Linked DNA regions of Homo sapiens: region 1 is linked to region 2. Evidence: fine-mapped expression QTL. A gene starts in region 2. The other region holds a variant in brackets. All regions are shown on one strand. Distances are between the middles of the regions.

Region 1 (2,924 bases), 96 kb before region 2:
GGTCTCAAACTCCTGGGCTCAAGTGATCTGCCAGCCTCAGCCTCTGCCTCCCAAAGTGCTAGGACTGCAGGCCTGAGCCACCATGCCCAGCCTAAACTCACTTATTAGTTCTACTAATTTATCTATAGATTCTTTTGGATTTTATGGTACATGATTACATCATATAAAAATAGTAAATTGTATTTTTTCCATTTCAGTCATTTCTCTCCCCTAGCACTGGCTAGAACCTTCAGTACAGTGTAGAATTAGAAGTGGCAATAGCAGCCATCAACATATAGTTCCATTCTCCAGGGAAAGGCTTTCAACATCTCCCCAATTGCTTTACGAGTGTGTGTGTGTGTGTGTGTGTGTGTGTGTGTGTGTGAGCTACCATTTATCAGATTAAGAAATTTCTTGGCTGGGCACCATGGCTTACACCTGTAATCCCAGTACTTTCAGAGGCCCAGGATGGGCAGATCACTTGAGGCCAGGAGTTCGAGACCAGCCTGGGCAACATGGTGAAACCCTGTCTCTACTAAAAAATACAAAAATTTGCCAGGTGTGGTGGCACATGCCTGTAATCCCAGCTACTCCAGCTGAGGCATGAGATTCACTTGAACCCAGGAGGCAGAGGTTGCAGTGAGCCAAGATTGCACAGTGCTCTCCAGCGTGGATGACAGAGTGAAACTCTGTCTCAAAAAACAAAACAAACAAAAAGAAAAAAGAAATTAGTTTGCTAAGAGTTTTTTTTTTTTTAAATCATGAGTGGATGTTGAATTTTTAAAGATTTTTCTGAATCTTTGAGATGATGTGGTTAATTACATTGATTAAGTGGTAAACCAACATATTCCTGGAATAAATGTAATTTAGTTGTGCTTTATTATTTTGTTAAATAATTATTAAATAATTTTATTATTAAATTGCCAGATTCTGTTTGTTAATATTTTGTTTAGGATTTTCAAATTCATGTCATCTGGGAGAGTGGTTATAATTTTCCTTTCTCACAGTTTTTTCAAATTTTGGCTTCATAAAATGAGTTACATTTCATTTTCTCTATTTTTCTTCTCTGGGTAAATTTATGCATGCTGATTTTTTTCCTTCTTAAGTGTAAAGTGAAATTCACCAGTGAACGCACATTGGCCTAGAGTTTTCTCTGGAGAGAAGTCTTTAAATTATGGCTCAATTCCATATATAGAATGTTTTTATAATTTTATTTCTTTTGCCAATTTTGGTAGATTATAGTTTTCCCAGCATTTGTCCATTTAATCTAACTTTGCAAATGTCTTGACATCAAATTGTTCACAATATCATTTTACCATTTTAATGTCTACAGAGGTGTTCCCTTTTTTATTCCTGACATTGCTTTCTTGGTGCCTTCTCCCCTTTTTTCTTTTGATTAGTCTCACCAGGGATTTATCAATTTTACTAGTCTTTTAAAAGTACCAAATTTTTGGCCTTACTGGTGGTCTCTATTTTTTATTTCATCAATTACTATGATATTTAGTATTTTCTTCTGTAGTCCTTGGGTTAATTTGTTCTTTTCCTGACTTCTTGACATGGATAATTCTTAGAGTGTCAACCACTCTCTTTTCTATTTACCATTTAAGGCTACAAGTTTTCCTCTAAGAATTGCTTTAGCTTCATTCCATAAATTTTTATTTGTATTGTTTTTATTTTACTTAGTTCAAACTATTTTCCAATTTTGACTGTGCTT[G/GT]TTTTTTTTTTTTTGACCCATGAGTTATGTAGAAGTATACTTCCTTATTTCCAAACATATGAGAATTTTGTTTTTAAATTTTTGATTTCTGATTATATTGTGTTGTGGACACAGAACATACTATGTATTTTTTTCTTTTAGTTCTTTGAAATTTGTTTAGACTTGCTTTACGGCCCAGAATATGGTCAATACTGTCAAATGTTTTCTGTACATTTGAAAAGAACATGTATTATGCATTGTTGAGAACAGTGTTCTATGTACATCTATTTGTTAATTATTTTATTTAACCCTTCTATATTCCTACTGATGTTCTACTTTTGTTTGATTGAATTTTAATAATGTAATTCTTTCCTTCTCACCCTCTATCATTACCTTCAAAGTCATATACTCATTTTCTGTTTTTAGTAATTACTGTAAAGATTTCAACCGCATCCTTGACTTAGCTATTATTTTTTGTTTATGTTGAGCCTGCATCTAGAAATCTTCCTAAACTCTCTCATTAGATTAAGGAGCTATTCTGTAGACTTACTTACTATACTGACTTTCTACACTGTTTAGGCTCTGTAGTATATTGTTAAATGGAAGCAAAGAAGAGAGGACATTTTTGTTTAATTCCAGGCTTTGAAGAAAATGCTGTCAATATTATGTCATTAATATGATGTTCCTGGTAGGTATTTGGGTAGATTCTCTTTGTTGAGTTAAGGAAGTTTCCTAGTTGTTGTTAATTTTTAAAGTCACAGGTGCAGGCTGAATTTTAGTGAATGCTTTTTCCTACACTAATTGAGATAATTGTAAGGTGTGTCTTCTTTAATTGATGAATATGATAAATTGCATTAACATAGATTTCTGATATAGGATGATTCGTATTCTTTTATTATGTTTTTTAATGGGCAAAAGACTTTTATTCTTTTTGAGCTTAGATTTTTGGTATAATTTAACTTTTAGATTTGGAAGTACATATGCAGGTTTATTGGTAATATTGTGTGATGCTGAGGTTTGGGGTGTGAGTGATCGCATCACCCATGTACTGAGCACAGGACCCAATAGTTAGTTTTTCAACCTGTGCCCTTTTCTGCTGTGCCCCCTCTAGAACTCCCCAGGGTCCATTATTGCCACCTTGATATCCATGAGCACCCATTGTTTAGCTTTCACTTATGAGTGAGAGCATATGGTATTTGGTTTTTTGTTTCTGCATTAATTTTCTCAGGATAATGACTTCCAGCTGCATCCA
Region 2 (2,924 bases):
CCCAAAGACAGCAGGGAACAGCCCCGATTCCTAAGAAACCCTCAGCGCGCCTCCTCACAAACTCTTGGCTGCTCCATAAACCATTGGTGTAGGTGGAATCAAGTGGCTTCCTGCTTCACAGGTCTTCGTCTTTACCACTGGCATTTCCTCCTCTCGGAAAACCCTGAGGAGTCCCTTTCTGGGCAGTCTTGATTCTACAGCCTCCGCCTTCCGAAGTGTGTGAGTCAGCACACGCTAAGATCACTTTTGATATACAGTGGGCATTCAATAAAAGCTTGCTTACTAAAAACTCTCACGTATCCATTAAAGCCCAGGATTACAGAAAAGCCTTCTGACACTATTTGCATTTTGGACTCAAATGGCATCAGTAATGCACCTCCCTAATGGGTTTATTAAACCCTTAAACAACAAAGGTACTACTTTTATTTCACTCCTACATGATATACAGTAGCTCTACGCACACAAACAAGACCTAATGTTTACTTAATAAATGATAAAGTCAGATGTAATGAGTCTGCAACACGCACATCTCAGAGCGAACTTCCCCTTTATCATAGCACTATGCTTGGATATTGTCATATAATTGTTGTCATCCAGCAGTCCAGAATTGAAAGTGCTTGGGCTTGAATATTTAGCAGCGCCTTAGTTTTCTAGAACCTGTGATCTACCAACTCGATCCCTGGGTGAACCATTCGGCCCTCCTAGCAGGAATTACTTAACTGAGTTAGAGGTTTTCAACTTTGGACCTCAACAAACACATTGTTTCTATCACGGTGTTCCCAATGACTCACGAGGTCAGATAGTACTTCCTGATTACTCACCAAACCACCTTACTTTTTGCACAATTCGAAACCTAACTTTAGGAAAGAAGGCCGTTTGGCATACTGGAAACAAGAAACAACGCGTGCTACTGCGAACCGCACCGCACGGGGTGCGGAGACTTGGTGTGACTGTCGGCTCCGGTGGGCGCCCCCCACCGCACCCGGTTTCTCGTCACCAGGGCTGCGCCGCGGGGCAGAGCGGAACGACCGCAATATCCCTCCCCGAGGGCGCTGGCTGCACTAGCTAGTCCACTCCCGAGCCTAGCAGCGCCGTCAGGCCCACAGCGCCAACGCCGCGCAGGGCAAGGGTGCAGCCACTGGCGGGAAAGTAGTACGCGGGCCACTTCCTGGCTAGGACTACAGGGACCTTTGCAGCCCCCCACCCCGCAGCGCCCACGCACCTGCCTAGAGGATCCAGCTAGCTCCGGACGCTCCCCGATTCCGCGCTCCTTGCTCGCGGTACTTCCGTAATCTAGGCTCTCCCTGCCCCCGGGGCTGGGCGGGCGCCACTGCGCCGGAACCCCGCCCCGCACCAGGCGGGCGCAGCGTCCCAAGCAGGGACGATAGCCGGAACGCGCCCGGAATCGGGTCCGCCAGGTGGGGAGCGGGTCCCCGGCCTCTGGCGGGGTTTCTCTTCCAAGATCAGCCGGAGGGTTCAGGGCTTTCAGTTTCATATTTCAGGAGGGATTTTGTCAATGAGGATTAATACAAAGCTCGGCTTTGAGAGAGGTGGGTGGATGGTGCTGTCCTTTAACTGAGAAATGGAAGGGATTCACAAGGCCGGGAAAGAAGAAAATTTCGGGAAAGTTCGTGGAAACAGGAGAGTGAGATAATAAATTTACTTTAAGCCTTCCTGCGTTTGAAATTCGTGACAGTGTAACTAGTTGGAAATATATTTATCTGCCATTCAAGAGAGGCAGGGGGCTGGAGATACAGATCTGAGATTCACTGAAATGGGAATAAAGCAATGGGGAAGATTCAGATTTTTAGGATACTGAATAAAATGAGAATAGAAAGGATAGAGTAGAGAATACAGTGGAAAGGGTATGGGGTTGAATCCTGACTCCACAATTTATTACCAAGGGGGCTGGGGACAAGGTAATTTACCAAGTTTCATCATTACAACCTACTCTATAGGGTTGTCTAAGAAACAACAAGAGATTCTGGGGGAGGAGAGAGACTGATTCCTAGAGTTACCACATCGTAATGCTCAAAATGTCCAATCTTCAACAAAAAATTATGAGGCATGCAAAAAAAAAGGCGAAAAAATGGCCAATTCAAAGGAAAAAAGAAATGAACAGAAATTGTCCCTGAGCTGAGGAAGCACAGACATAGGAATTATTAGACAAATACTTCAAATAAACTGTCTTAAACATGGACAAAAAGTGAAAGGAAACATAGAAAAATAACTGAAAGAAACAACCAGGAGAACAAAGTCTCAATAAATAGAGAATATGCAATAGAAGATGTGCAAATGGTCAACAAGCATGAAAAAAAGCCCAGCATAACTAATTATCAGAAAAGTGCAAATTAAAACTGCAATGAGATACCATCTTACACCAGTCAGAATGGTTATTATTAAAAAGTCAAGGAACAACAGATGCTGGCAAGGCTTTATTGAAAAGGAAATGCTTATACACTGTCAGTGGGAATGTAAATTAGTTGAACCACTGTGGAAACCAGTTTGAAGATTTCTCAAAGTGCTGAAAACAGAACTGCTATTCAACCCAGCTATCCCATTACTGGGTACATATTCAAAACAAGAGAACTCATTCTACCAAAAAGACACATGCACTAGTATGTTCGTCACAGCACGCTTCACAATAGGAAAGACATGGAATGAACTTAGGTGCTCATCGACAATGGACTGGATAAAGAAAATGTGGTACATTTGCACCATGGAATACTACGAAGCCATAAAAAGAATGAATGGAATCATGTCCTTCACAGCAACGTGACTGCAACTGGAGGCCATTGTCGTAAGTGAATTAATGAAGGAACAGAAAACCAAATACCACATGTTCTAATTTGTAAGTGGGAGCTAAACACTGGGTACTCATGGATATAAAGATGGCAACAATAGACACTGGGGACAACTAGACA

The links.
Region 1: its variant is fine-mapped to the expression of PARP4 in whole blood (INTERVAL, PIP above 0.99).

What each region holds. Positions count from the first base shown.
Region 1 is chr13:24,415,272-24,418,195 of GRCh38, forward strand. No RefSeq gene overlaps it. Among named protein-coding and RNA genes, the nearest start is that of LINC00566, 85 kb to the left of the region's middle. The variant G/GT (reference allele first, on the strand shown) is at 1,694.
Region 2 is chr13:24,511,484-24,514,407 of GRCh38, forward strand. It overlaps PARP4 (poly(ADP-ribose) polymerase family member 4), which reads right to left and starts at 1,295. Exons shown (of 34, transcript NM_006437.4): 1 at 1,223-1,295. All of the region lies in intron 1 of LOC105370117 (a long non-coding RNA gene), which reads left to right. RefSeq lists a silencer at 1,293-1,452.